Linked DNA regions of Homo sapiens. The protein of the gene in region 4 interacts with the protein of the main gene of each other region in a biochemical or structural test. Each region holds a gene or a part of one and is shown on either strand. Other genes may lie near its edges.

Region 1 (4,232 bases), on a different chromosome or scaffold from region 4:
CTTTGCTGGGCAGGGTGTAGCCTGACTGCATGTGTCACTAGGGCCCAGGGGACAGAGCGTCCAGCTGGGGCTCCTGGGCCCAGTGTCCCTCATCCTCGGAGTCACCATCCCCTGCGGCTGGGGGCCAGGCCTTCATTTCAGGCAGCCCTGGAGCTGGAAGCCACGTTCAGGGAGAGTTGCGTGGTACCTGGACACCCACCCAGCCAGGACTGCGACTCTGGCCACCCTGCTTGGTCTCTTTAGCTGGTGGGTCTGGGCTCAGGCAGGGCTGGGGTAGGGGAGGCGAGCTGCCCTGGAACCGCCCATCAGGAGGCCCTGGCAGCCCGAGCACCCTCAAGAATGCAGAGCAGATGCAGGGCTGGCCCCAGGGGCGTCCTTCTTGTTGGGCGCCTTGCTCAGACGTGTTGGAAAACAGGCCCCAAGCATATGGGCTGCCTCAGTGAAGGACGAGGGCGGGGGCAGGTGCTGTGTGACCCAGATGAGTTCCTGAACCTTCCTGAGCCTTGGCTTCCCCATGTGGAAGCAAAGATCACAGCCGCCCTCTGGGCATCCTCTGGGCAGTGTCCACGGAAGGTGTGTGCCAGAGCGTCTTCTTCACTGGTTGCCGTCCCAGCTGCCTCCTCAGGCCCAGCTCCTGCCCAGACTGGGAGTGGCAGTGCCAGCCTCAGGAGACGCCAAGACCACCTGTCAGAATGTCCCATGGGCGTCCACTGCAGGCCGATGGTGGCTGAGGTGGGGTCCCCCATGTCCCCAGCACCAGCCACTGTCCTCGGTCACAGCTCTCTCTTGTGCCTACCTGAGACGCCCAGGACTCAGAAATGCCTCAGCACCTCTGCCGCAGGCCCCTGCACCCCAGCAGCTGGAAGGGCCCCAGCACTCTCTACACCCACCAGGCCCAGGCCCATGGGGCTCCGTTCATTCATTCACTGTTTATTTCATGCAGTCAGCAGACACTTCTGGGCACCTGCCACATGCTTGGTGCTGGGGTTCCAAAGTGAGCCCACGGGCATGGGCCTGGTTCTCAGAGGGCCTCCAGCGCAGGGAGAATGCCGAGGGCTGGGCTGAGGGCAGCTCGGGGGTGCTGGGAGCACAGAGGAGGGGGCTCCCCATGGCCTCGGGTCAGGGTAGGGTCCCGGAGGAAGGAGGGTTAGCGCAGAGGCAGACAGGAGGAGAGGACGGAGTCGGGGTGGGGGAGGCAACAGCTCCAGCCAGACCTGGAGGCCGAAGGGGGGCTGGGGGAGTCCTTGAGGTGGGGTGCGGGGCACGGGGCTGAGGGTGCCAGGCCAGGTACAGCTGGGAGCACCACACACTCCCAACCAGTAAGGGGAGTTTACAGGCCCCAACTCGTTCCGAGAAATCAGCCCCTTTCCTTCCGGGAACCAGCATACCTGTGGCGTCAGGAAAGTGTGGTGTCCCAGCCGAGGAGGGTGGGCTCCGAGTCGGGCACCTGAGCGTGGGGGCTTCCCAGGAGCCCAGCCCTCCCGTCACTTCTGCCATCCCGGCCTCCTGCTGGGGCCCCCAGACCCATGCTTGGGGCTGGACACTGGCCAATCCTTGCTCGTCTGTCCCACCAGGTCCTAGTCCCCAGGGGCCTGTGTCCTGCCCCACTGTCCCTTCACAGCCCTCTCCCAACCTCACCTGCCCTGCCACGGGCCTGCTCGAAACTCTTCTGAGCGTCCCCTCACGATGAGTTCAACCCTTCCTCCTCCTCCAAGCAGCCCTCAGTCACGTGTCCTGCCTGCTCTGAGCCCTCCTCCCACCTCTCTTGGCCTCTGCTTGGCGGCCGTGAGGCCCTGTGGAGCTGACATCTATTGGGCACAGCTTCGCATGTGGAGCCGAGAGGTCTCTGGGGTCCCAGGGCAGAATCGCCGTGGGCAACACCTGCCCCGGCTGACAGCTGCGGTTTCTGTGTCTCTCTTTTGTGCAGAAGACGCTGGGGAGGAAACGTGGGCACAAGGGTTCCTTCAAGGACGGTGAGTGTGGCTTCGGGAGGCACCGCGGGCTGGGCTCCAGTTGAAACTGGTCTCACTGGGGCACCCTGGGGTTCGGGTGGGCCTCAGTTTGGTGTCTCGGGGTCACCAAAGCTGCTTGACAGGGTCCTTCCAGAGGCTGAGGTCCCAGTGGCTGGTCTGTTCATGTAGCCCTGATGAGTCTAGAAAGGTCTAGAAAGTTCCCTTGGACTCTATTCTGTGTGTTCTGAAGGGCAGGGTACAGACAGAGCCCCCAGTCTTGCCCTGAACACCCCATGTGTGTGCTGGGCCCAGCCTACAGTGGCCGTGTTGGGGGACCAAGGCCAGATCAGAGGGCACCGGCCCCACACCGCGGGCTCTGCCCGGACTCTTCGAGGCTGAAGGGGAGCCATGTGTTGGGGCCTCCAGCATGGGTGGCGGTGGTGCACACTCAGCCTGCTCGGGGGAGATGAGAACATCCCACAGGGAGGTTGACATAGGGAGGTGCCTGCTACCTGGGTCCAAATGCCCGGGGGTGTAAAGAGATTAGAGGCAATGAAGCCCGGGGAGGGCTAAGGCCTCGAGTGCCCAGCTCCAGGCCTGAGGCTCCAAGACACAATGGCCCCTTCCAGCCCCCAGAAGCTTTGTGGACAGGCATGGGCCCAGGAGGGGGTACCCAGGTCTCCTCTACGGAAATCCCTGGGAAGTGTCCCCAGGAGGCAGCAGCGATGCCCCACGTCTCAGGGTAAGGCTGGTTGGGGGCTGCTGTGAGGGTTTGGAGGCACCCTGAGCCGGGACCAGCCCATTTCAGGTGGGACTTGTGGCATAGGAGAGGTCTTGGGACTGGTGCCCAGCCTGGGGCAGTCCCCTCCCAAAGCCTCCCTCTCCCACACAGCCGTGAGAGCCTGTGGGCCTAGAGGACTCAGCTGGCGGGTTGCAGGGAGGCGCAGCCTTTTGCAATCCCCCAGGGCCACAGGTTACCCTCCTTCTCTCTCTAGACCCCCAGCTCTACCAGGAGATCCAGGAGCGGGGCCTGAACACCAGCCAGGAGTCTGATGACGACATCCTCGATGAGTCCTCCAGCCCCGAGGGAACCCAGAAGGTGGACGCCACCATTGTGGTCAAGAGCTACCGGCCCGCCCAGGTCACCTGGAGCCAGCTCCCAGAGGTAGCGCCGGAGGGTGGGTGAGGCTGCCCCACAGAGGCAGGGAGAAGCCACAGTCCCCCTGCTGTTCCTTCCCCAAGCCCAGGCGGCTGGTCCCCAGCAGCAGCCCAGTCCTCCCAGGGAGGGTGGGCAGCCTTCCCAGAAGCCCCTCGGCTGTGGGTGGCAGACCTGGGGGTCTCCCTCCTGTGCCCTCAGAGTCACCCTGCCCATGCAGGGCCCTGCCGTCGTGCGTGCGAGGGCCAGCCCTGCTCAGACTACCCTTCAGGGAGCTGCGGGCGCCAGGAGTCCCTTCCCAGGGCCCCCGCCCCAGGAGAGGGCTGAATGATCTGCGTAGGGAGACAGCTGGGATGGGAGGGGCCGGGACTTGGAGCTGGGGCCAGGGCCAAGACACTCCTTCACTTTCCATATCTGAAATTGGGGGCCCGTCCCTGCCCTGCAGGGGTCTCAGTGGAGAGCGTGGCCCGGCATTGGTCCCCATGCTTGGGGGAGATGGCTGCTCCTACCCCAGGTGGACCGGCATGTGACCCGCACCCTGAGGCCCAAGGGAGGGGACCATGTGGCCGTGGGCGTGGCGGGCAGCGGGGAGGGCGGGCCCCCACCTGTGGTACAATGGGGCTCCTTGTTCGCCATTCAGAGGGGCTGGCACTGCAACCACCCACCACACACCATGGTGCTGCGTACCCTGGGACCCCGGCCAGGGCAGGCCCAGCGTGGGGTGAGGGCAGGCAGCGGGCAGCCTCCCCACAGATAGAAAGGCCTAGAAGTGCAGTCTTACTCTCCTGCTGGGAGCTGGGGGCGTGTGGTCTCCCTCTGTCGGGGATGGAGTCCAGTACCGCACCCTGGTAACTGCCAGAGTTTCCGACCCTGCATGGGAAGGAGGCACTGGTTTGGGGAATGGGGGACTCACCCTTGGCCCAGGCGCTGTTGGCGGCCTTTCTGCCCAGCCCAGTGAGGAGCAGAGCACGAATCAGGGTGGCCTGAGTCCTGCAGAGGGGACCCCTGGGCGGTGTGGCAGCCCTCCTGGTCCTGACGTGCTCTACCAATCGAGCCACACTCCCGCCAAGGCGACCCGCCAGCTGTGGGCCCCGAGGAGGAGGGAGCCCGGGCGGAAACAGCGT
Region 2 (4,232 bases), on a different chromosome or scaffold from region 4:
ACCCAACCTAATTATTTGTCCTTGTAAAATATTTTATCAGTAAGTCAAATTCTAGAAGGCTCCCTTTAGCTTCCCTCTCAAATATTTTTTAGTAAATTTGAAGTAAACTTCTTATTTTTTCTTTATTCATTAAAATTTATGTGAAAACTTCTATTAGTGTTCTAATTGCTCATGGACTACACATTACAAATTATTTAGCTGATATCTTTTATAGAAAAATTAAACACAACTGTACTTTAAATGAAATAAAATGATGAAACACATGTACACAAATGATACTTTATGATTTGTTAATAAACTTTGTACAAAAAGATTAAGACTCAAAATAGAAATAAAAATTATTCCACATAGGCGACTTCAGGTGTACATCAATTATATAACCTCAACATATGCCTATAAAGCAAATTTTATGAAATACAAAATCTCTATAAAATGTGCCCATTTATCTCTTTTGTGAAAAATGGTTTAAAAATATTGGGTTTTTTTGAAAGTAGAAATTATGGTTTTCTAAAATGTCTCTAATGAAGCATGTGACACGTTACTTTTAGTTGATGATGGTGATAAGTGATTAAACATGTTTCAAGTAATATTTCTCACGCTTTGCTGTGCGTAAAAATACTGACAGGAAACGGTTAAGGAAATGAAAACTTGTTAAAAATGCGATTCTTGGCAAGTACCAAACGTTTCTGATTCCATGGATCTGAGGTCAGGCCAAGAAATCTGCATTTGTAATACTAACTCAAGTGTGTTGATGGAGATGATTCCTAGAACATGCTTTGATAAACATTGTTTAGGGTTTTAGACTTCAAGGGGCTTTAAAGCTTTAGCTATATTTATTTGAGATATTTAGTTTTTAAGATGTACCATGCTAAATACAGTAAGATCTTAACAATTTCCCAGCAATTGATTGTGATGGCTAATGGGTGGCCTTGCTTTGAAGTTCTCCTCATTTCCAATTTTTGAGCAAAGCATGTTTCCCTACATCTGTAAGCAATCATCTAATTTACTACTGTTCACGCACATTGCCAGCTTTAGTAAACTGGAAATAAAGCAGTAATTTTTGTGGGCTTGAGGATAATAAGAATGATAGTGAGAAACATGACTTGCACAGTGGTCCTAGTCTTTATGGCTCCAAGAAGAATTAAGCTCTTCTTAATGTTCATATTAAAAAACGAATAATTTAGCACAAGATGTCTCATTTGAAATTTAAGTATTTAGTAGAAGACATTGTGTATCATATTATTTTGATAATTCTATCTATATGTTTGTTAATGTACCACAATAAACGAACCAACATAAAATGAAAGTTGACATTCACTTTATAGGTAATTCTCTCCTATTCTCGCCTACACTCCACCAATACCACACAATAAACACTTCTGTTTACAAGCTATTTCTGTGTTACGTTAATGGGCATGTCATATACAAGACAATATGAGTTCAGTACCTGTAATACAGATATATATATATATCTATATACCATATATATACTGTATCTATCAAAGTTTTTGCTTCCTTAGTATCCTTTCTGAGTTGTCAGGAGATACATTTGAAATATAAATGATGATACAAAATCTTTAAAAAATGAAATTGGATATAAAAATTATTCCATATCTACCATCATTAGCCTCTCACAAAAAAACAGGTACAGAAAGTTTTAGAAATATGTCTTACCAAACTTTAAAGTAACATATTCTTGCTCTCCTCTCTTTTTCTGTCTGTCTATGCACACACACACACACACACACACACACACACAGACACACTCGAGATAACAGAAAAAAAAGAAAGCTACTCAATTCATCTTGTAAGACTACTATTTTCTTAAAACCAAAACTGGACAAGGACAATATAAGAAAAGACAATTAGAGCCCAAACTTGATTATGAAGATAGATGTAAAAATCCTAAACAAATTATTAGCAAACGGAATAGTATATACAAATAAAAATATCCCAACCAAGCGCAGTTCATTATAGTAGTACAAGAGTACCACCAACTAACAATAAATTATTAATTAAATCCCTATATAACAAATGGAAGGGGAATAATTCCATGGTTAACTTAATAGACACTGTAAAAGTACTAAATAAAATTAACCATTGATTTATGTTAGGAAAAAACAAATCTGAGCAAACCAGCTTTTAAAGTGTATCTATCAAAACCACAAAGCAAGCATATTGCTTAATACTAAAATTTTAAAAGTATTTGCATCAAGGTCAAACACAAGAGAAAGATGTCCATTGTAAATGCTTCTCTTCAACACAGTTCTGAGGCTAATGTAATAAGGTAATATCAACAACAACAACAAAAATCTAAGAGTTGCAAAGAAAGATACGAAATTATATTTTGTTTTAGACAATTTGTCCACAAAACTCTACAGTTTCCATGGAAAATCAATTAAAACTAATAGAATTTCAACAAAGTTGCCACATACAAATAACATAAAGACGGAGGATGATATTTGTTCTAGAATCTTGAAAAGAAGGAATGCAAAAAGAGGCAAAAGAAGTAAATTAAGATTATGTTCAGCGAAGTCATTTGTCTGGAAATTTATGTAACTCAAATAATTAGGGCAAACCTGTGATGTTTGGGATAAAGGTTTTCAATGGAAGTAAGAGAACTTTTAAGCCATTTTAAGGCATCCAATCCAATAAATAATTTATATACCTAGAATGGTCTGGAAGAATTAATGTGAATTTGGAGTCATGGTTTTCTGCTACTTCCTGTGAAAACTTAGTATACTCTCTCTATCAAATATAAACTTTGTCTCTCAAGTTGCATCAGGACCTGGGAGCCCAAACAAAACTTTGGACCAAATCATTTCTATGCCTCTTCAGCTCTAAAATATTTTTATATAATAATCTAGAGTGAGAAAAACATCAAAACATCATGATATATAATGTTTTGCCTGCTCATATCTGCTCTATTCTTTTATCTGCACCAGTTACCTCTTTCTCCTTGTTTTTCTCTCATGATATAATGTATCACCCTTTACCTTGATTCTCTTTGGCCCTTCACTCAGTGCAGGGCCATCAGTAGAACAGGGCTCAAGGAATAAATCAACCATCCGGGCCAATCTAAGCAAATTACATAAAAGATTGATGTGATCAGATGTTTTGGAAACCTGCTACACAAAATGTGATCTACTGACTAGAAGCATCAGTATCATTTAGGAGCTTATTAGAAATGCAGAATTTTATCCTGTTCCTACCAATTCAGGTTTTAAAAAAAGATTTTTAAAAGATTGCCCAGTTATTTGTGTGGACATTAAAATTTGGCACTAAGAAATGTCATTCTGGAAGGATGACAAAAGATGAATTTGGGAAGCAAATGCCTGAAGGCAAAAGGTTACTTATTCATTTTATTTTTTCTGTGATATTCAGAGTAAGAACCAAAACACATAGTATGTATGAAAAGAAATAAATTGTTAAAGAGTTGAAAAATATTTATTCACTTTTCTGAAAGTTCACCAGGTAAAGCTAAAATTGGAGCAGTTAGAGGTTTTACTATGGTGTATATCTGAATCTAAACAAGCCTTAAGGACCAGAGAGGGTACTATTTCGTTTACTTCAGCAAAAAATTAAAGCCTTTTAGTTTATCAATTCAGGAAGCAGACTAACTAGGATTATCCTCTTTAAATTACTTCTAAAACAGTGACTCAAATTACTCGATCTTTTTAATTTCTAAGGAGTCTGTAGTCAATTGCTAACCAAAGGCACCTGAGATTTGAATTTTTATTGCCTGCTCTGATCTTGTGTTCTTGGTAATAGAATCCCTTTATTCTTCTTTCTAGACCACTGGGTGGAAAAATCCCTTTTATGATGTAACTTCTATTCATCATTGCAGTAAATTCTTGTAGAGCGCATTTGGATTATTCCACACCTCTAAAATTGAATCATAGTGCTCCCAGGGTGTATTGTTCTTCTGTAAAGATACTTCTACATATTTATAACTCAAAATACCAATTAGCATCTCACCCTTTCCTCCAAGAAAGTCACTTACTCTGATGTAGAACTCTGAATTGTGTGAACCATACAATACCAAACACCTGGGGAGAAAAATTTACTGTTGATTGCTCTGAGAAAATTGCCTCTCCTGTAGAATAAGATCATGGTAAATTCTGTCCAAAAAAAAAAAAAAAGATTTTATGAATAGAGTCTGATCCCAGCAGACAATAGAATGCAGAAGGTGTTCTTTAGCCACACCTAGAAGATCTTGGGCTTAAAATTAA
Region 3 (4,232 bases), on a different chromosome or scaffold from region 4:
CTGAAATGGTTTGAAAACCTCTGAGGTAGGAGACATGGTTGGAAGCCTGTGTTAAACAGGAAATAAAGACATTTGCTTCCTGTGAAAAGTGGAATATGTGTGATGAAACATGACAAAGGCATTTCTTTCTACCCAATAATGCCAAATTAATAAGTAAAGCATGCTCTTTGGATTAGAAAATGAGGTCGTGTCTGGTTTTCATCCATCTTTTATGCTCTGTAGGCTTAGTCCACAAAACCTAATACTACAGGGAGAGAGGTGGCCACAGAAGAGAGAGAAGAATTACTTGAAGCTGATCTGTAAGGAAATAAAGAATAAGTCAAGTTCTCAATGTGACTCTGGGTGTTTGTAGATACTAGAAGTGAGCAGTTGAGGTCATCCATTACTTAGGATTATGCAATGACTTTAACCTTCATTGATTTTTAAAGATCTGTGTTTTACCTCTTATGAATGGTTCACTCCACCCCAGGACTGTATCTGCTGGATTCAGCCTGACTGAATTATTTCCCCAGAATTAAATGGTAGCTCAGGGTCAAGAAGACTGCCAAGAAAAATAAAACCAGGGAACCTTTATTTCTTCTACGTCCTGCTTATGTTCCTGAAACCTTGTGGAAAGAGCCATGGCCTAGAAAATGTGAGATCTCTGTTATAAGACAAGCAGTGCACGTGACTGTCAATGTGCCCTTGGCCAAGTCTCATCATCTCTGTGGGGAGGTGGACTGGAGAGGGCACCATCCTTCTCTGGACCTCTGCAAAGTAGTTCAGATAAACTCTCTAGAGGACAGAGACATGCACCACCCCAGTGCTCCTTCCAGGACAGACTTACTCTGCCTCAGCTGCAGGAAATGTGGCTCTCAACAGACATCTCCAGCTGTCAGGCCCTTCAGGGATTGCCTCCACTGCAGAGAGCCACTTGGCCCAAGGTTGCTACCTTCTCAGTGGTGCACATCCCATACTGAGGAAGCAATAGAAAGCCTGGCCATTTGGGACCAACACAGGACAACTTTGACAGACCATTAAAGGTCCAGAGGTTGAGGTAGGAGTATCATCTGACACCAGGAGTTCAAGACTAGCCTGGGCAACATAGCAAGACCCCATCTCTACAAAAACCTAAAAACTAGCTGGGTGTGGTGGTGCATGCCTGTAGGCCCAGCTACTTGGGAGGCTGAGGTGGGAGGATCACCTTAGCCCAGGAGTTCGAGGTTGCAGTGAGCTATGATCACACCACTGCATTCCTTCCTGGGCAGCAGAGTGAGACTCTGTCTCTAAAAAGATTAAAATACAGATAAATTTTTAAGAACATTCCAGAGGTCCCTTGGGTTTGGCAGTAGCTGACAGGACTGCTGTGCAGCTCAACTTCTTTTCTTGTCAAGTCCGGCTTCTGTCCCTCCCCCTGACAGGCATCAATCCCAAGGTACACCCTGATAAACATTATGAAATCCATGCTGGAGTCTACTTCCCAGAGAACCCAACTTGCAACATTCTGTGAACAAAAGGGAAGTCACCCAACGCTAGTGTTTAAAATGGAGAAGACTGGGGGCCTCTGCGTTTAGATCCACCTCCTACATCCCTTCCATGTCCTCATCACAGATGTAGCCTCTCCCTTTATGCCTCATACACACTGCACTCCAAGTGTGCCTTTCAAAGGCATCCTTGATATTTGTTATGCAAATATGCTGGCAGTGGGCAGCATCCAGAGCCCCGTCCCTTAGGGAAGGTGCTGGATGCCCCAACCCGCCAGGGTCAGTCCTGTTTGACCTGAGCTTTCAACCTAAAATCTTCACGAGCTGCAAAGATTAAAAATAGCAACAATAACAACAAAACCTTGTGGTGATATAGGATTCGTTTTCCTCCCAGTCTATGGAATTTGTCCTTTTGACCATGTTAGCATGGGGGGCATTTTTAAAATACAAAAGACAGCTGCTGCTCGAATCAAAGGAATCACACACTGTTGATGGTTGCACAAAGGAAGGTTGAATGTTTACCTTCATCTCTTCGGATCCTCACTGCAGGAAAGTTTTTTAAGTAGGACCTGCTCTCTCGTTGAATTATAAGTGAATATGAATAATGTTTTTTGGGATTTTTTTCTTTTTTCTTTTTTTTTTCTTTTTGGAGACAGAGTCTAGCTCTGTCACCTAGGCTGAAATGCAGTGGCATGATCTTGGCTCACTACAACCTCCACCTCCCGGATTCAAGCAATCCTCCTGCCTCAGCCACTCGAGTAGTTGGAACTACAGGCACGTGCCACCACACCTGGCTAATTTTTGTATTTTTAGTAGAGACAGCGTTTCACTGTGTTGTCCAGGCTGGTCTTGAACTCCTGACCTTGTGATCAACCCGCCTTGGCCTCCCAAAGTGCTGGGATTACAGGCGTGAGCCACCGCGCCTGGCCAGGAATAATCTTTTTAAACAAAAACAAGAAGCATGGAAACTGTCATAGAATTCCTTTTTGTTTTGTTTTTTCCATCCTCCCTGGCAGATTCTGAAAGTCTGTGGGAGGGATGGATGAGCACAGAGGAACCTAGTGGGAGAGGGAAATGTGGGGGGAGAGGGTGCCATGCAAAGAAGAGATCTTTAAGGGAGAATTGCCGGCCCTCTTAACAGTGAGCAGCACATGCCCCTATTCCTTCTCCACCCTGGGGAGAGAAGGAAGGGGCCAAAAGGACACATAACTGTTACGAGGCATTATAATTATAGATCTAAAATACATGGGAAAGAAGCCTGGGGGAGTAGGAAAATTAAGTCTGAAATCAGAACCAAGTTCTAATCCCCATTTGTCTTTTATCCATGCAGGATTTTTCAGATCCTCAGTTTTTCTTCACCTGTAAAGTGACAGCTGTTCCTACCTTGTCAGAGGCAGAGGATTAGCAATAATGCAAGCGAAATGCGTAGTAAAGTGCTCGGCCCATAGCAGGCACTTAGTGAGAGGTAGTCATTGATGTGAGGTTTTTTCCTTATGTTGTGAATTAAGGCACAGATTCTGGAATTTGGTTTGGCCGTGCATGAGAAGTTTGTACCTCAAGATATGAGACCCCTTCACAAAAAGCTGGTTGACCAATTCTTTGTGATGAAGTCGAGCTTAGGGATACAGGTATGTATACTTAGGTGTCCATGGCGGGGCAGCCTGATCACTGCCGTTTGCTTGTTAAAGGGATGATGATGTATCCAATAGTGACATCTTGTGGTTTTTCTACCAAACTGCACTGTTTTACCAGGGAGCCCTCAAATACAATTGCCTTGTCTGCTATTTGCGAGGCTTTCCTTTTGGGAAAACACAAATGTAAGTGAGGGAAAGCCAAATAATACTGGAACTTGCTTTAATAGCTCCCTATGTGAAGACTTGATGGCAATTAGGATGTGTGCCTAGTATGCTAACCTGTCTCATAAGTTATTTTGCCCAAATCATTACTGTAATGAGATATTTCCTTTACTACATCTTTAGGAGTTCTCTGCTTGTATGCAAGCCAGTCCTGTCCATTTTCCTAATGGAAGCCCTCGTGTGTGTAGAAACTCAGCACCTGCTTCTGTGAGCCCAGATGGTACCAGGGTAATTCCTAGACGCAGGTAAGTCATATTCCAAATTATCTTACAATTTGGCCTCACCCGCAAGCTGATCTGGAATGGTTCTCTCATTCTTTATGGCACAATTTGTCAAATACGCTATTTCTTAATGAAATAACTAACCCGCGAGGCAGCTGCAGACCTCTGCCACCAGTAAAACAGCAACAGCATGAGAAATAAATAAACTCAAACATTTGATTATATTGAGGCAAACAGGAGAAAACAAAACGGAATGTATTTTCCCCCCTTTGGTTTCATAGCATTCTAGCACATGATAAAGTACAATTTGGAGACTGAGTTAATGACCTTTTTTTTCCCCCTGAAACAGCCCGTTAAGTTACCCAGCTGTCAACCGATATTCTTCCTCCTCACTGTCCTCACAAGCTTCTGCTGAAGTAAGCAATATTACAGGGCAATCAGAAAGCTCTGATGAAGTCTTTAACATGCAGGTACTTAATTAGCTTTTTGTCTGGTTGTGTTTATTCCTTTTCTGTCTCAATCATGAGTGTTTCTGTTCATTCTGCTGTGCTGATGAACAGACCAACAAGCAAGAACTTGGCTTAAGGACAAACCTTTAAACACTCTTCTTGCTTTATGGGTCTCTAGAGTCTACAAAGACGTTTCTCTTAAAACTGCCCCATCGCTTTAAGACGACATCAGCAAGCGATGGA
Region 4 (4,034 bases):
GACTACTTGTTCCTGTGCCCTCTTGTTTTAGGCCTCGTTTACTTTTAAAAAATGAAATTGTTCATTGCTGGGAGAAGAATGTTGTAATTTTTACTTATTAAAGTCAACTTGTTAAGTTTTTTATGTATTCCTGTTGGGTTTTCTTGTTGATCTCATGCTAGCAGAGCAAAAATTGTAAAATATTTTGATTAAAAATCTAGGGACCTTTATGTCCTATTTGAAATGTGATGCTTTTATGTTTGTTTTCTGGTTTTTACATTTTTGTTCTGTATCTTACACAATCCACCTTGGGCCCTGTCATCTGATGTGAGATCAAGTACTCAGAGGCAGTGATTACCACAAAACCACTGATCTCTAGAAGAACAGAGAAGGAGAGGGTTAATGTATTTATACATAGTGGGCCTGGCAGGAGCGGGGGGCAGGGTGAGTCGGGAGAACGAAGCTGAGGGTGGGGACATGCAGGAATCTGAAGGCCTTGGTGACAGATTAGTGGAAGAAAGGTCTAGGGTTGCTTCCGATTTGGTATTAAGAACCAAGAAAGAGGCCGGGTGCAATGGCTCACACCTATAATCCCAGTGCTTTGGGAGGCTGAGGCGGGCAGATCACCCGAGGTCAGGAGTCTGAGACCAGCCTGGGCCAACATGGCAAAACCCATCTCTACTACAAATACAAAAATTAGCCAGGTGTGGTGGCGTGTGCCTGTAATCCCAGCTACTCGGGAGGCTGAGGCAGGAGAATCCCCTGGAACCTGGGAGGTGGAGGTTGCAGTGAGCCGAGATCCTGCCACTGCACTCCAGCCTGGCAAAACAGACTGTCTCAAAAAAAAAAAAAAAAAAAAAAAAAAAAAAGCGCTCTTGGATGCAGCGAGGCGAGGCCCTGAGCTGTAGCCATATCATGAGCCAGGCATGCAGGGTGGGCCCCAGCCCTGGCTCAGCGACCGGCCTCCACTGTACCACGGGACCCCAGGCTTGGATTTTCTCTCGTTCTAAATATGTGCCCACAATGAGCGCTCCACTAGCTACAACAACCTTAAGGGTGTTTTTCTACATGGGCACTAGCCAGTAGAGCCCTGCAGTGGGGGCAGAGAATGGGGACTCTTCCAGGGCACCAGTGTTTATCATCTGAACACAAGAGAGGCATCTTGTGTTAATGCTGTTGTCCAGGAGCTTAAGTGAAATGGGCCACATTTCTTTTTGTGTGGAAACCCAGAGTTACAAGGTCATTGGCATTTCAACACAGCATTTTTATTGCTTTTGAAGGTTTCCCTAGAGCAGACATCATTCTATTGCACAGATGTGTCATTTTGGCATTATAGAAAGTTGCAGTTAAAAACGCTTTCTCCAAAATAAAAAGACAAATGAAATACCCAGCATATACAGTTGAAGGCAAAGGAGGGCAGGCTTTAGAGGGATGGGGTCCATTGCTTTTGCTGTGCATCACCCTTGATTAGCAGTTACATTTTGGTAGTACTTCTTACCCCCAATTTCTAGAAATCCTTTTCAAATCCAGATCAGTGGGGCCCCATCTATCAGGAGAATCAACCCTTCAGGAGCCTGAGCAAGAAGACTGAACCTTACTGGCTGAATTAGGATAGCTGCAGAGAGCTGGAAGCTGACACAAAACTAGTTGGAGCAGCCCTGTTTGTCTTAAAGCAAGGCGGGTGGAATTCCAAATGCTGGAGAGGGGCATACAGTGGGTTCCCCCATTCTACAAGCTTAGTAAACCCAGGAGACAGGCACCCACTGTGGAGAACTGCACGCTTGGTCGAAGGCTTCTTGTAATTTCTTAAGGGTTTCATCAACACCATTATTGACCAGTGAGAGGTCAAAGTAGTGAGCGTACTGGCTGCGGATGGCCTCAGAGTCCTTCTGCAGCTGCTGCAGGGCTTCTGTCTGCAAAGAAGAAAGCCACAGATGAAGCAAGCTGCACCACCCCCAGCCCAGAGAGGCCAGTGACAGATTTTAAACAGCAATTGTTAGCGTTGCTCAGCTGTGCATCATACTTGACGAGTCAAATTCAGAAGACATTGTGAAAGAATGTTAATGTAGGGCATGAAGAGGCAATCTCAAAAGACCATGGCAATTCTCAGAGGATCTCAAGCTAACCCTGACTAATCAGAGTCCTCTGGAGGACCAATAGCTATGCAGAGACAGCATGGACTTCACCAGCATCTCCCACTTAATGCCCTTTGAACATGGAAGAGCCATTTCAACAACCACCAGAGCTGCAATCCTAAAACGAAGATAAAGGTGATTTTGTTGTTTTGTTTTGTTTTGAGACAGTGTCTTGCTCTGTGGCCCAGGCTGGAGTGCAGTGGCACAATCTCGGCTCACTGCAACCTCCGCCTCCCGGGTTCAAGCAATTCTCGTGTCTCAGCCTCCCGAGTAGCTGGGATTACAGGCATGCGCCACCACATCTGGCTAATTTTTGTATTTTTAGTAGAGACAGGGTTTTGCCATGTTGGCCAGGCTGGTCTGGAACTTTAGACCTCAGGTGATCCGCCCGCCTCGGCCTCTCAAAGTGCTGGGATTACAGGTGTGAGCCACTGCACCCAGTCAGATAAAGGTGACTTCTAATCCCAGATCACACCTGTAATCCCAGCACTTTGGAAGGCCAAGGCAGGATGATTGCTTGAGCACAGGAGTTCAAGACCAGCCTGGCAACACAGTGAGACCCCATTTCTACAAAAAACAAAATTTAAAAATGTGTGTGTATATATATCTCAGGACTCTGTCTTTGACCTAAAACCAAGCAGCCATGAAAGACAAATCATGTAACTACATAAAAGTAAAAATGTCTGCATAGCAAAAAGACATGCCAAATTGGAAAAAAATTGCAGCTGATATTACAAAGGGCTAATTACCCTAATATAGACTTCCTATAAATCAAAGGTCAATAACTCAGCAGAAAAATGAGCTAAGGGTATGACCAGATAATTCTCAGAAAAGGCAATACAAATTGCTCTTCATATGAAAAAGTACCTGATCATCTCTTTTAGTAAAAAAGAAATATGAGATACTATTTTTCCCTCCAGTAGACTGGCAAAAAAAGAAAATTTTGACAACATGCTGCAGGCAAAGAGAAACAAGCAGTCTCACAGGTGGTTGGCGGTCCCTGTCCAAATTCTAAGTGTGTGTGCTCTTGGACCCAGTGATCCTACTTGGAGTTTTTCCTACAGATATATTTGCACACATGTGCTATATGCACAGGGCTATTGACTGCAGTATTACACATGCATGCAGCAGAAGACCAAGCAGCTATAGAGAAAAAGAGTTCCTCACACCCTGATAGGGAAAGGTGTCCATTGTTCAATGCAAAAGCACAGTGCAGCAAAGTGCATGGGTAGGGCTGGGCAGAGGAGCAGGGTAGGCTTTTTGATATATTCCTGGCCTCTCTGTCTTTCCCCACAGCCATACTGCACCCCAGGGCGGGTTCAGTGCCACCTCTGTCCATCACAGCTTCCCCTGCCAGAGCCTGCATCCCACCAGTATCAGGATCTGCTCAACTGTCCATCTCTGCCCCTGGAACTGTGTGCCTCCAGGACGATGACTGGGTCTGGTTTGTTTTGTCCCTGTTAGGTAGCATGGGCACTGGCCTAGCTAGTGGCTTAAGAGCTGGAACGAATGTGCATACCCTTTGGCTTCTTGGCCCTGGAGGAAGAAGCCCAGCTGGAGCTGTGACCTCCAGCCAGCACTCTGGCCAATGACCTGGACTGAGGTCCCAGTATGGGCAGGCCCGGAGAAAGTGAACTACCCATCGCGCACAACCTCTCCTCACCTGAGTGCCCTGGTCAGTAGGTGCAATGAACACAATGAAAGGCGAAAGTTCTGCTGTCCGAACAATTTTCAGGGTCTAGAAAAAAAAAAGAAGGGCGGCGGGGAGGGGGGGGAAGGAAGAAAAGGAAAGTGAAAAAAAAAAACCTACATAGCTGTCATAATGGATTCCTTCTAATAAGCAGCTTTGAGCTTTACCCCAATACAACTTTCCATCATTCCCAGTACTACTGTTCTTGTTCCAGGCTGACCCCATTAAAA
Region 5 (4,232 bases), on a different chromosome or scaffold from region 4:
TACTGAGGAGAGCGAGGGGCCGGGCTCAGCGGGACCGTGTTCAGACTCGGGGACCCAAACCCAGCAGTGCAGGGCCTGGCCCTGGGGGCGGGGGCACCACTCACTGCCTGCTTGCACCACGAGCAGCTGATGGCCACAATCTCCTTGCTGTGGAAGGTGAACTTCTGCTGGAATCCCTGAGGGTAGACAGGATGGATGGGAACCAGGGCAGGCGTGGAGCAGCAGACCCAGCCCCTCTCCTGGTGCCAGCCTCTCTCCACCCAGAGACAGGGCCTCGCTATGTTGCCCAGGCTGGTCTCAAACTCCTGGGCTTAAGCAATCTGCCTCAGCCCCCCCAAGTAACTGGGAACAACAGGCATGTGCCACCATGCCCAGCTTTGAACACATTTTTTGTTTTTGTTTGGAGATGGAGTCTCGCTCTTGTTGCCCAGGCTGGAGTGCAGTGGCGTGATCTTGGCTCACTGCAACCTCCACCTTCCAGGTTCAAGCGATTCTCTTGTCTCAGCCTCCTGAGTGGCCGGGATTACAGGCGCCCACCACTACGCCCAGCTAATTTTTTGTATTTTCAGTAGAGACAGGGTTTCACCATGTTAGCCAGGCTGGTCTCGAATTCCTGACCTCAGGTGATCCACCCACCTCAGCCTCCCAAAGTGCTGGGATTACAGGCGTGAGCCACCACACCCAGTCTGAACACATTTTTTAAAATAAAAAAAAATATGTATAAGATAAGCCTGAAGAGCAGGGTGGCTTAGCCCGGGCCCCCTGACTCCCTGAAGTTACCTGCACGGCACCACATGCATACCCGTTCTGCCACACTGCAGGCTAACTCCTGCCTCACTCGGATTTTCCCTCCTTCCTACCCCCGAGGCCTGACCAGACCCCCATGTGCTGTTAAAGAAATTTACTGCCGCTTCCGAGTACCTATCACATTCATTCCCTGTTCATCACACAGGCTGTTATGAAAGGCCTGCAGTGGGCCAGGCGCTGAGAATCAGTGAAGCAAGCCTCTCCATCTTTGAGAGCCTGCACTTACTGAGGGAGGCGGGCAAGAAGCAAACAAGAAAGTGAACCAAACAACTGTGGACTGGGTTAGGCGGTCGCCTGGAAAGCCTGGCTTCAAGCCACACTGTCCTCAGGAGGGTGGGAAACCGCTGCCCAGCTTGGCGCTCGGCACACAAGTATCCATGGAGTCACCGAATGAGTAAGTCTATACGATTCTCCAAAGGGCCACTTGCAGCTTCAAAGCAGGCCAGGTGTGCCACATGGGAAGAAAACTTTCCTCCCTGCTCTCCTACTAAGCCCAGAGACCAAGAGCAGGCCAGGGTGCTTGAGAACTGAAGGCACTGCAGCCAGGCTGAGGGTCAGCCCCGGACTCTGCACACCAGGGTGTGGTCAGTGATCGGCAGGCCACACCGGCCACATGGCCTGGGCTCAGGACCGCAGGTGCAGGTGGCGATGTCCTCGGGCAGGGCCTCTCACCTTCCCACAGTGCCGACACTTGCCGTCCTGGCGTCGTCTGTGTACCCAGTGGTGCCGTACAAAGGTTGGCTGGGGGAGAAGGGGAAAAATTTCACTGGGTGAGGGGTGGGCAGGGGCACAGTCCTGAGGACTGCCCACACGGCTCAACACACGGGGCTGCAGGAAGCGCTCTGCAGTCCTGCGCATGAGTGGAGGAGGGGCTAAAGACTCTCTTCATGGCCTGGGGGAGGCTCAGACTCAGAGGGACAGAGAAGGCTGGGAAGCACCAGGAGGCACAAGCTGTCCCACCCACTCCGCAGGCAGCGCTAGTTAGGCCTCCGCATGGCAGACCTCAGACAGACCTCAGTGAGCAGCAGCCTAGAGGGAGCCGAGCCCCCTGGTGGCACTCCAGAGGCACTGCGCAGAGGCCCATGCAGGAATCTTAGGGTGGCCCCATCCCTGACCACCCTGGGCACTTACCTCGCGGACATTCCTGGAGCCTGATTCACGGAAGGACGGCTTACAGCGGAAATTTATCTGTGAAACATGGCAGTGACCACCAAAATGTCAGAACCTCCCTTCGGGGTCAGGTATGTGGTCACTCCCTCCAGGACAACCCAGAGTCATCCTCACAAGGTGGGGATACCCCCAAATCGTCACGAGAGTCCTTGAAACACGAGACACCTCCTGTGAGAAGCCCTCCTGCCTCTCTGCCTCCTCCTCACTAGCCAGAGGGATCTTTCCTTCTTCCACCCAGGACCCAGGATGAGGGGGAGGTTGGGAGCTTTGGGTCCGTCTCCCCCACTAACATGGGACCATGGTTTGCTCGTTGTTTTTTTTTTGTTTTTGTTTTTTGAGACAGAGTCTCGCTCTGTTGCCCAGGCTGGAGTGCAGTGGTGCGATCTCGGCTCACTGCAACCTCCACCTCCCGAGTAGCTGGGATTACAGGTGTGCATCACCACGCCTGGCTAATTTTTGTGATTTTTAGTAGAGATGGGGTTTCACCATGTTGGCCAGGCTGGTCTCAAACTCCTGACCTCAGGGTGATCCACCTACCTCGGCCTCCCAAAGTGCTGGGATTACAGGCATGAGCCACCGCACTCGGCCGCATCCTTTCTTCCTCGCCCTCTGGCACTCCCGACCCGGGCACACGCAGCCAGCCTGGTCCTCACACGCAGACTTGCACTGCCTGGCCCCTGGAGACCTTTAGCTAATTTGTGGAACCCTAGGTCGATTTCCACCTTAAATGATGAGTGTACAGTGCTTGGGGCTGCATTTCTATTTCCCTTCTCATAACTGTCCCTACTTCAGCCTTATTAGAGGTATAAGGAAGCCTCACTTTACAATTCAGAGGCTGGGGAAAGCAGCCTGTGTGAGCCTGCCTGAACCACTCCTAGTCTTACAGTCTCTCCCGTATGATGGCCTGGGTTTCTGCAGGCTGGGAAGCGCTGCCCCTCCATGCGAACCCTTCTGCCCCTGGCCTTGACCCGTCTGCCCAGTGCTGCCTCCACCTCTAGAAGCACAGTGCCCAGACATGCCCCCAGCTGCAAATGCACAGTGGACAATGGCCCTTGGGGAAAGGTCTCCACAGAGGCAGGGTGTAGCCACAGCTGAGTTATGAAGCTTCAGCAAATCAATGGCCTCTTCTAAGCACTAGTTTGGACATGGTGAAATGGTACAAGGGCCACCATTCGTCAATTCATTCCATTGAGTGATATTCAACGAACCCACTAGGCGCCAGGTTTGTTCCAGGCAGTGGGGATACAGCAGCTAATCAGTGAGGAGCCAGGATTCGAACGCAGGCATTTGGCTCCAGGGTCCTTGACTCTTCACCCCCGAGTGCTGGGTCACTCCTGGCAGGCCGTTTGTATAACATGTGGGTGTGAGTGCGCGCTGAAAGGGCCTCAGCACCCAAAGGGCAGGGGCGGGCAAAGCTGAGCTACCCACCCACCTTCTCCAGCTGCTCGATGCAGGGCGTGTGCACCACAATCTTGCAGGCTGCGCACTTTCTTCGAGACACTGACTTCTGCTGCAGGACAGGAAGAGAGGGCCCCTGAGGCACCAGGTAAGTCTATCTCGGAGGCTGCCTGCCCCAGCACAGCTGCCCTTTGTGTGCACTGGGAAGCCCCAGTCCTGGCATCCGGACAAAGCCCCTGCACCCCTCACCATCCTGGGGCGGCCCACAGCAGGGGTGCCAGGGAGCGGGCTCAATCCCACGTTCCCGGAAGGGCTGCGGCTACTGGCTCCACCAGCAGGGGGCGGCGTGCCCCTACGAGCACTCACCAGCATCCTGGCTACACAGTACTGCTCCCCAACGTAGCAGAAGTCCCCGGACACGTTGGTCTCGAACCAGATGTGCTCCCCATATGTCGCTGACTCCTAGCCACGGGATGGGCTTGCTCAGCACACGCTGGCCGCCCAGCCCTCCCTCCCATCAGCCCCCGCCCACCCGCCCTCTCCCAAGACAAACCCACTCCAGCGCCCCGATCGACCCTGCTCTGTTCCGTCTGCCCCACTGTCCCAACCCTTCCAGGCTTGGCTCTCCCAGCTGCCTTTAGTGCCTCCACCCGCCAGCTGCGCCTTGGCCAAGAGCCCAGAGGGTCTGGGACCCAGGGGTGTTCAGGCACTCACGCTCCAGTCCACTGTACTCCGGATCTGCCGCTCTGACTCGCTGCACGGGGCCCCAGGGGTGGGCGGAGGGGGGGCCAGGTGCTGGAGGCCCGACTTGGTGATGGCTTTCCTAGAGAGGAGAAGACAGCTGAGGAGGGGGCTGA
Region 6 (4,684 bases), on a different chromosome or scaffold from region 4:
CTCTCTCCTCTTAAGCTCCTTTACTAGGCTCTAGGTGATGATGAAGTTTTCCTTTAAGTTAACATCCTTATTACTTAAATAGGAGACACTTCATGTTCTACTCCTGAAAGCAGTGGTATTAGTTAAGTTTGGTTGTTGAGATTATGTTATGAAAGTGATGAAATCACTATAATTTATCATTTTAAACATACAAATTAATTTTTGCAACAGAATAACTCTCTAACTGTAATGTGAAAGGAAAATATTCAGAATTCCTTTCTCAGAGGTTTTGTTTTCAAATGGCCTATACTTGAATATTTTAAAAATCTAAGCTTTTATATGAAGCCCATGTAACTCTAGTAACCGTGAATTCCCCACCTACATTGCAATCAATGAATCTATATAAGCAAATGGACTGTCAGCATTGGGTTTCTATCTCAGTTAAAAGTAAAGGATCCTTCTTATTTTAGGAAATTAAAACAAGAATCAGGTATAGAACTTTTAATTACATGCTTAAAAGACTTGTTACATACATGTTACACTATTTTGAATATAACTGGAAAAGTTAATTTTTTCGTAATCATTGCTGGGTCTCTCTGTGTCACTCTTTTCTCTCTTTCTCTCTCTCTCTGATTGACCACAACATTTAATAGTTTATAATAAAATGTTATACACGTGAGAAATAGTAGAATAAATGTAAATTCAACACAATATTCTAATGTATAGATATAAAGTTGTTATCTATCTATCTATCTATCTAAACAGATTTTAACTAGAAAGACTTCCACCCAGTTACGGTTAAGTAGATTAATCTCAAATCAATTTCAAATATGGTTAAATAAATTTATCTCAATTGGGGCTACTATTCTTTATTTAGACATATGTCTATCAATAAATATAAAGGCAAATAACTTTGTTTAAGGATGTATAACAATATGGAAATTCAGCATAAAAGCATATTTCCTCTTTGAAAAATCTTTAATGAATATTGGAACCCTAACTTATTCTAATTCAATTTGATTCCTTTATAAGTTTTTAGCTAAACTGTACTAAACACAATCAGACCCCAGAGGGAAATAACATAGTAAACTTCAGTTAGGTTGGGTTTAGAATTCTATCCACAATTCTCCAGTCAATATCTAATTGTAAGCACACTGAAGAATTTCAACTCTGCAATTTGAAAAAAGAATCCATTAAAACACCAATGATATTAAGTTAGAGTATACTGCAAACTCTTTGACTGCTTTATTTAATAAAATAACAAGATAAAAATGAAGTCAATGGAAATTACTAGTCATAGACACTAAGTTGGTCCCCTCAAGAAAATTAGCAACATTAATAACTAACAACATTGACAAAAGTGCCCTTTAAGTGAAACTTCATAAAATAAAGCCACTTTCCTGTAATTTAAGCTTAAGAGGTAGAGACTGACAAAATACAAGTATTATTCCTTCATGTCTCTTGTCCATCAACACAAATTAAAAACAGCACTTCAATACAAACAATTCAATATGTGCTGAAATATAAAGACATGGATTATATGGTCTAAATTGATGAAAGTTATTCAAAAGCAGTCTCCTTTATAAAACCCAAATGGCATGAATTCCACAATATGAGATTGTGTGTAACTCTCTTACTCTAAAATTCTATTTTCTTTTTAGGAATAACAGATTAATGTAAATGTGAATTTTTCAAAAGAAAACTGATTGAGTAGCAAATATGTCTGAATTTGCCACCACATACTCTATCTGAAAAATGGAAAGAAGCCAGGTCATTTCGTTGCTACCCAGAGAGATGATCCTAGCACACCTGTCACCTGCTTGCCTGTCCTGGATCCAGTCTCCGGGAACCAGTTCAATTCCAGCATCCTAATACACACTGTCTGGTCTCCCTAGTTCAGCTTGCCCTCCCTGATAACGGCCCCTTTGGCAGAGCAGCTTATTCTTAATGCTAACAGTAGGTATCACTTACAGAACACTTGCTGACTGTTCAGTTCCCATCAAAGAAAGCCTTATGTGGCAGATCCTTTGATGATGCTTGTTTTACAGACAAACGTTTGGGGCTTAGGTTAAGAAACTTGAGAGGGGGCAAACTAATAAGTGGCAAAGCCGAGCTTTGAACCTACCACTCTTCTGCTTCAGAATTCATATCCTTAACTCATGCACTCCCATTTAATTATTTATGTTTATTATTTCATTGTTTGGTGAGCGCTTATATTGAAAATTCATTTTTTTTTTGGTGGGGGGCATGCTTTCTGTCACTTTGCAGAAACAAATAAAAGTTGAGCTGAACCCTCAATTAAGTTCTTTCCAGTGCGATGATTCAACACAATATTCTAACCATAAGGATACTCAGAGGAAGGAGTATGCCATCCAGAAGTCTAGTATCTTTGTAAGGCACGATTTTTGCCAGGCACAATTACAGGTGAAGGGCTCATTGAACTAAAGGGAGGAGGGGTCCTATGGTCACATTTACCTCCAAGCCCTTCTCTGCACCCTTTCCCTCCCTTCTTTCCCCTCTCTCCCTCCCACCCTACAAGCTTACCTTGGTTAGGAAAGCATATTCTGAGAAAATCAAAAGGAAAAGGCATGTGTGCGATTCAGGCTGCTATGACACACACACACTTAACTTTGTTGCCTATGGATTCTGCTTTCTAATAACTTGCCCTCAACATGACCCCAGGGAGTGGATTAGAAAGTTTTTTTCCCCATCCCCATTTTTTACCTGTTATTCACACTGTGAGCAGGAGGACCCTTTTCACCATCGTTGTTCGGCTGAACTTGCTTCGCGGTTTGTTCTCGGCTGGGTCAGGAACTCTGGTAGAGGGAAACCAGTGCCCTGTCTCTGCCGGGCTGGGACTCCGCGAGTCACTCACCTGTAGGGGAGGTCCGAGGCCCGCGCGGGCGCAGGGGCGGCGCCTGTCTCCTCCCAGAGCATGGCTCAGCTGGGCGCTTGCAGTGCCCCCGACGCGATCAGCGATCCTGGAGCCCCAGGAGCTGTTAATTATTTCTCCTTTTCGCCACAGCAGGGAAGTGTCAAGAAACCTGAGCCACTCCCTGTGCCTCAGTGCATGTTGGGAGTGTTTACTTTCTTAGGAACAGCTGATAGGTACACTCCTTTGCTCTCTGCCACACTTCTTGAGAAATGAATGGACATTCTAGTTAACGCTTTAACCACGGGATTTGACTGATGTTAATCTCTATTCTCTAGTCCACCCAGACTGTAGGTAATTGGCCTGTGAGAAATGACACCAACCAAGACTGAACGCCATTATTCACGTCTTTCTTTTTAAGATTTTTCTTTTCCAATTTGAGATTTGTTAACTTTCTTTTCCTTGTTATTTTGCTAACACATTTCCCTGCTAGCACTTTTTTTCACCCAGAGCAGCGTTTCGCGCTTCAGGGTGCACCAGGACCACCTATGTATTCTGCTAAACCCAGGTACCATCAACTGTGAGACTCTGATTTAGTAGGCCATGCATACACTTCGGGTATTTATATTTTTTATAAGCTCCACAGAAGAAACTGGTAGACATCAAAGTTTGAAAATGAACATAATGAAACAAAACAGAGGAGATAAATAATAATTTAGTCATTATCTACTGAATTGGATTTGGGGGCTTTGTTTTATCCAATATCTCCAATTTCAAAAGGACACCAAAAAGGCTTAGAAACTGTTAAATGACAGATGCTGTGGAAATATGAAGTACATTTACACACACACACACACACACACACACACAGATTTTTAAGGATCATTGTTATTTTACTGGTTTCCTATGTAAAGCAACTATTCATAATTTTTAAACATAATAGGTTATTTTACAAGTGTAAACCTGAGAGCCCTCAAAAGAAATTCAATCTGATTCCTGCAAAAAGTTCAGCAGGCAGAGTTAATTTCTAGTATCTTTCGTGTTCAAACGCCAGACAAACAGAATGACTCTAGATGTTCAGGTTGCATGTTTGTCATAGCACTTTAAGTAAGATCCTATATGTTCAAAAGGTGAGGCAGGCCAGGTGCAGTGACTCACGCCTGTAATCTCAGCACTTTGGGAGACCAAGGCTGGTGGATCACTTGAGCCCAGGAGTTCAAGACCAGCCTGGACAACATGGCAAAACCCTGTCTCTGCAAAAAAAAAAAAAAAAATTAGCCCGGCATTGTGGGGCATGCCTATAGTCCCAGCTACTCGGGAGGCTGAGGTGGGAGGATCACTTGAGCCTGGGAAGTCGAGGCTGCAGAGAGCCAAGATTGCACCACTGCACTCCAGCCTGATTCAAAAAAAAAAAAGAAAAAATATTAGGCAGTTTATCTATTTAATCTGTGGTGTGCGGAGACCAGGAACTATCAGATTTATCATTATTTGAGCAAATGGTTTTATTGGATCACAATCAAAGATTTTACAATCTTATGTAAGGACAGATGTGACTTAGTATTACTTGCAGATATTAATTCGATCATCATGTTGGCTCCATAACTCTCTGGTATGTGGCTGCTGGTATGGACTGACCTTTGAATGATGACTAGCAGGACCTAGAGTAGTTACAGCTCTCGGTTCCAGGATATCTTGCTCAAATCCATGCTCCACCTCCATTGTCTGTGCTTGAAGTGGGTCATTTGCTTATTGTCAGCATCAGGGCAACATTCTTTTGCATCTTTTACCTGCAAGCATTGGATTTGGGGGCTTTGTTTTTTGCCAATATCTCCA
Region 7 (4,232 bases), on a different chromosome or scaffold from region 4:
AACATTCATAAAAGTTGGCCTGTAGTTTAGTATTTAAACTGGAAAAATAAAAAAAGGCAAGACAACCAGATTCAGCCTTCAAGGATCTTACCATCCAGTTCTTTTATCACATTAAAAAATAACAGCCTGATTCTTTATACACATTTCTAGATGCTTTAAATTTTTAAAATAGTGAGCTGTTTAGTGAAATCAGAAAATAATTTTTAAAAATCTAAATATGTTCATCCTAAATTTGGCCTGGTTCCTTACAGCTGCAGAAATTCATTTTCACCCCATTCCCCATCCCCCTTCCTGAAGCCCTAAAGCACACACCCAGTGGGAGTCCCCTCTGTTTCCCAAAGGAAATATTTCATTCATATAATGTCTCCTTTGTAATCAACACTGAGAAATGTCACTTTGATTAAACACAACTCTGAATGACTAAGACCACAGTACAATAAATTCTCCAGAGCTATCTTTCAGAACAACTGATTGCTCTCCAGTCTTAATCCTCCAGAGTCTTATTTAATCAAAATGATGTTGCTAATTAAGGATTAAAACCTCCGAATAGAATAAAAAAGAAGGATTTTTCTTTCTCCTTTGGGCAGGTCAAGGAGGCAGAATTTGCTGCAAGGAAGTAAAGAGTCCCTTCTACCTTTGGTAAGACTGCATTGTTCTCTGACATTAGGACTTAATCCAAAATAGGGCTGAGTGCTTTGTAATATTAATATAATTGGAGAAAGAAAAAAGGGGAGCAAGAGAAAGAAAAAGAAAGAAAGAGAAAAGAGGAACTGCCTCGGATAGCTACATATGCCTATACATACACATATAGACACTATTTACTCTAAAAATGGACAATGTAGCTCACATCTGTTTGACATCCACTGATAGATAACAAAGAATAACAAAGAAGTTTTATACTAAATTCTTAACTACCCTCCCTTAAGATCCATATATTAATTTGTTTTCTTGAATTTGTATTTGGTAATATAAATTGTTTCCTTAAAAAACACAAAAACCGACGAACTCCATAAGAACTCGTTGGGAGAGACAAAGATTCACAGGAAGGCTGTTTGATTTTCATGGAATATAAACTCTTTTAGGTGTTGGGAGCGAACTGGGTGAGAAACAGAGATGCTGGGTGATGCTTTAACAAATTGCAAAATACTTCTTTCATCTTTGCATCTTCTCTCTGCATTGGCCTAGAAATTTATAATCTCTGCCAAATTAGTCTATTACAATACAGACATACTAACAGCTACCATTTTTTGATCACTTACTATGTGCCAAGTTCTTTGCCAGCAATACACATGGTGTTACCTCTAATAAAACCGGAGAAGAGGAGGTATTATCCCCCTTCAGAAATGAATAAACTGAGGTAGAGAATAAATGACTAGGTCAAGGTCAGTCAGCCTGTGTTAAGCAGAGTCCAGACTTCCACCCAGGTCTCTTTGGTTCCAAAGCCACATTCTATTCTGCAGGACAAGGCACTTCAAATCTTTTTACCTGGAGGATAAATGTGTCCGCGTGTGTTGGGAAGGTGCTGGTGAGTTGTACTGGTCTGCATGAGACTTAGAAGCTCCTGTGATTACTGACTGAATCATCATCACAGATTCATCACATCATCACTTAGCCCAATTCATCACAAAGACTGAGCAACTACTACCCAAATGGAATCAGAAAGTAAACAGTGAGAATGGTCATAAGCCTCTTTTCTCTCCTAGCCAGTGCTACTTACCAGTTAAAAAAAGACATCGTTTTTTGTGATCCATACTCCTGAAGGCCAAAAGCACCCAGTGGACAGACGATGGCTCTTACGCCTCCAATGCCAAGGCAAATGGTCAGCAGTGCTACATAAAACAGCCTGTGCTGCTCTGTTTTTGGTATGTTGTTAACTGCATGGTAAGTGCCCAGATAGAAATCTTCCAAGGGAAAAGCCACCACAGATAACAAAGCAGTGCCTGTAGGTGGAGAAAAAAAAAGAGTAAATGTAGCATAGAACAAGTGGATCACCAAATCACATTTTAAACAGGGTTTTTCTCTGACAGTGGCATCATTTTGTGATTGTCTTATCCAAACATTTATGGTAGTCATTGCAATTTCAGGGATAGCCTGATGTTTTCCAATTGTAAAAATTTCCTTCAATATGTGTCTCAACTAATCCGGAGTTTTAGGTTTTTTTTTTTCTCCTCAAGCTTGAACTATGTTTTCTCTCAGAATGTATGAGCAAATCATGTTTATTTTGCCAAAATTAAAATAACTCAGGAAAGCATTGTATAAAAAATGAAGCTGTTAGTATTCCCACCCCCAGAGAAAACCACTGTTAATAAAGGTTATTTGTTCTTAATCAATCGAGTGACAGAAAACACCATGATCTCACACATCTCAGAAGCTTATTACCTAAAAGCTTTTAAGAAGAACATTATCAGAGTTAGAGGAGAACACAGCCTTTTTTTTTTTCTTTCCTACTTCTGTTTCTCCTTGTAATGTCTTTCTTATTTCTCTTATTTCTCACACAGCTGGATGGAGCCTTCTTTGCCACAAACAGAGTTGAGAAAGCTGGGGACAGAGGAGTGTGAGTGGAAGGAGAGGGGACCTAAAGTGACAAAAGAAGGTCGAGTATCCTTCTCTCTTCCACCTTGCAGGGACCACACTTGATGACTTTCCTTGTCTAATAAAAATAACTATACAATTCCATGCTTTTGCTAAGCTCTTTATATTTTGCCAAGCATGCTCATGGACTATATTGTTTCATCTTGGAAAAACTTTGTGATGTGAGTGGATAGATTTTCTTATTCAATTTTTTTTTAAAGAAATAAGTTCAGTGAGATTAAGTGGCTTGCCCAATGTTATAAAGTAACCCAGTTGTAATCTCCCTCTTCTTGGACCTCCTACCATCAAGTAGTCAAATAAATTTTTTTTTTTTTTTGGAAATAGCATTCCCCCCCATCAGATTACAAAAGTAATACATTCTTACTTCAGAAAATTTGAAAAATAGAGGAAAGCACTCAGAATAATACAAAAGGCCCATAATCTCATTACTCAGAGATCATCTTTACATATATAATTTTACTTTTATAAAATAAAATATTTTAAAAATATTTATATTTTACTTAAAAATATTTTACTTATATATAAATATATTTTATAAATGTATTTTACTTAAATAAATTGAGGTTACACTGTTGAGTTTTTAATGTAACCAAATAATATGAACAATTTTTAAAATACCTTTATACTTTTCCAACATGATTTCTAGTGATGATGTGATATTCTAATCATAATGTGTTTTAAAATACCTTTTCAGTTATTTTTAAATGAATACTGTAAAATACCCTGACACATAAGTTTTGTGCACATCTTTATTAGCCTAAGTTCTCAGTCAAAGGCATTCCTATTTTTATTGCTTCTTAATACCACTGGCAAATGTTCTTTAACAATGCAACAAGTTAATCTCCTACCATCATTGTATGAGAAGATCTTCATTCATACTAGTTAGCATCATTAATTTTTTTGTTTTGATGATTCGATTAGTGAAAAATGGCTCCTCCATGTTCGTTTTGCTCTTCATTTTATTAATTTGGCATTAATGTTATTTGGTATAAATTTTTATACAGTTATTTCATGTGATTTGTTTTCTCAATTAGATTATAAATTCCTTACAGATAAAAATTTGGTCTAATGCTTCCATCTCCCCTACAGAGGCTTTCACAATGTAAAGACTATATGCCCTTAATAGCTATTTGGCAACAGATTCATTTACCATGAGGTGAGCCCTTTAAATTATTGAGTTTGAAATGTTCCCTTTTAAGGTTAGCCAGATATGAAACTAACTGCTCTCTTTCTACCACTTAGTCTTCTCTTCTGTAGGTGTGACGTGAGGCCTGGCTAGACAAAGGGATGTCCAAAGAGGAGGGACAGGACAACTATTTCATGCAGGAACTATTAGGAACAAGGCACTTTTAGTTTGAATGATATATTTGTGTAACTTAGGCACTTTACTTCCATCTTTTGAGAAAATGTCATAATAGGCTGATTGTGTTAAATCAAAACTTTATCCCTATCTGTTGTAAAATGATGCAGTAAAGAGACAAAACAATGACATATATGAAGAAAAGTCTCCTCTGTGATGTGTGCAATTGTGTATCTCATCATCAGTATGCCTGCATTTAGTAGCTCTGTAGAAGCACCATGATGTGTCATACCCCCTGCCAGGTGATGGGGGTCCGCTGAAGGAAATGTTGAGTCCATCA

The links.
Region 1: the proteins of MPP1 (region 4) and ARHGEF16 interact in a test that uses a peptide from one of them, tested with the Homo sapiens proteins (one large-scale study listed by IntAct).
Region 2: the proteins of MPP1 (region 4) and SLCO1C1 interact in a test that uses a peptide from one of them, tested with the Homo sapiens proteins (one large-scale study listed by IntAct).
Region 3: the proteins of MPP1 (region 4) and DOCK4 interact in a test that uses a peptide from one of them, tested with the Homo sapiens proteins (one large-scale study listed by IntAct).
Region 5: the proteins of MPP1 (region 4) and DGKZ interact in a test that uses a peptide from one of them, tested with the Homo sapiens proteins (one large-scale study listed by IntAct).
Region 6: the proteins of MPP1 (region 4) and RASSF6 interact in a test that uses a peptide from one of them, tested with the Homo sapiens proteins (one large-scale study listed by IntAct).
Region 7: the proteins of MPP1 (region 4) and SLC15A5 interact in a test that uses a peptide from one of them, tested with the Homo sapiens proteins (one large-scale study listed by IntAct).

Annotation. Positions count from the first base shown.
Region 1 is NC_000001.11:3,464,221-3,468,452, forward strand, and holds part of ARHGEF16 (rho guanine nucleotide exchange factor 16), read left to right. Parts: intron 1-1,927; coding exon 1,928-1,973; intron 1,974-2,581; exon of another isoform or gene 2,582-2,694; intron 2,695-2,947; coding exon 2,948-3,117; exon of another isoform or gene 3,118-3,130; intron 3,131-4,232. UniProt on the Homo sapiens protein: Guanyl-nucleotide exchange factor of the RHOG GTPase stimulating the exchange of RHOG-associated GDP for GTP. May play a role in chemotactic cell migration by mediating the activation of RAC1 by EPHA2.
Region 2 is NC_000012.12:20,701,483-20,705,714, reverse strand, and holds part of SLCO1C1 (solute carrier organic anion transporter family member 1C1), read right to left. Parts: intron 1-4,232. UniProt on the Homo sapiens protein: Mediates the Na(+)-independent high affinity transport of organic anions such as the thyroid hormones L-thyroxine (T4), L-thyroxine sulfate (T4S), and 3,3',5'-triiodo-L-thyronine (reverse T3, rT3) at the plasma membrane.
Region 3 is NC_000007.14:111,740,872-111,745,103, reverse strand, and holds part of DOCK4 (dedicator of cytokinesis protein 4), read left to right. Parts: intron 1-2,971; coding exon 2,972-3,091; intron 3,092-3,442; coding exon 3,443-3,564; intron 3,565-3,889; coding exon 3,890-4,010; intron 4,011-4,232. UniProt on the Homo sapiens protein: Functions as a guanine nucleotide exchange factor (GEF) that promotes the exchange of GDP to GTP, converting inactive GDP-bound small GTPases into their active GTP-bound form. Involved in regulation of adherens junction between cells.
Region 4 is NC_000023.11:154,777,462-154,781,495, forward strand, and holds the end of MPP1 (55 kDa erythrocyte membrane protein), read right to left. Parts: intron 3,853-4,034; coding exon 3,778-3,852; intron 1,893-3,777; coding exon 1,716-1,892; 3' UTR 1,223-1,715; downstream 1-1,222. UniProt on the Homo sapiens protein: Essential regulator of neutrophil polarity. Regulates neutrophil polarization by regulating AKT1 phosphorylation through a mechanism that is independent of PIK3CG activity.
Region 5 is NC_000011.10:46,367,257-46,371,488, reverse strand, and holds part of DGKZ (diacylglycerol kinase zeta), read right to left. Parts: intron 4,199-4,232; coding exon 4,090-4,198; intron 3,838-4,089; coding exon 3,742-3,837; intron 3,488-3,741; coding exon of another isoform or gene 3,485-3,487; coding exon 3,410-3,484; intron 1,996-3,409; coding exon 1,939-1,995; intron 1,549-1,938; coding exon 1,480-1,548; intron 177-1,479; coding exon 105-176; intron 3-104; coding exon 1-2. UniProt on the Homo sapiens protein: Diacylglycerol kinase that converts diacylglycerol/DAG into phosphatidic acid/phosphatidate/PA and regulates the respective levels of these two bioactive lipids.
Region 6 is NC_000004.12:73,617,585-73,622,268, forward strand, and holds the start of RASSF6 (ras association domain-containing protein 6), read right to left. Parts: upstream 2,853-4,684; 5' UTR 2,704-2,852; intron 1-2,703.
Region 7 is NC_000012.12:16,270,844-16,275,075, forward strand, and holds part of SLC15A5 (solute carrier family 15 member 5), read right to left. Parts: exon of another isoform or gene 3,682-4,232; intron 2,594-3,681; exon of another isoform or gene 2,499-2,593; intron 1,941-2,498; coding exon 1,718-1,940; exon of another isoform or gene 1,704-1,717; intron 640-1,703; exon of another isoform or gene 1-639. UniProt on the Homo sapiens protein: Proton oligopeptide cotransporter.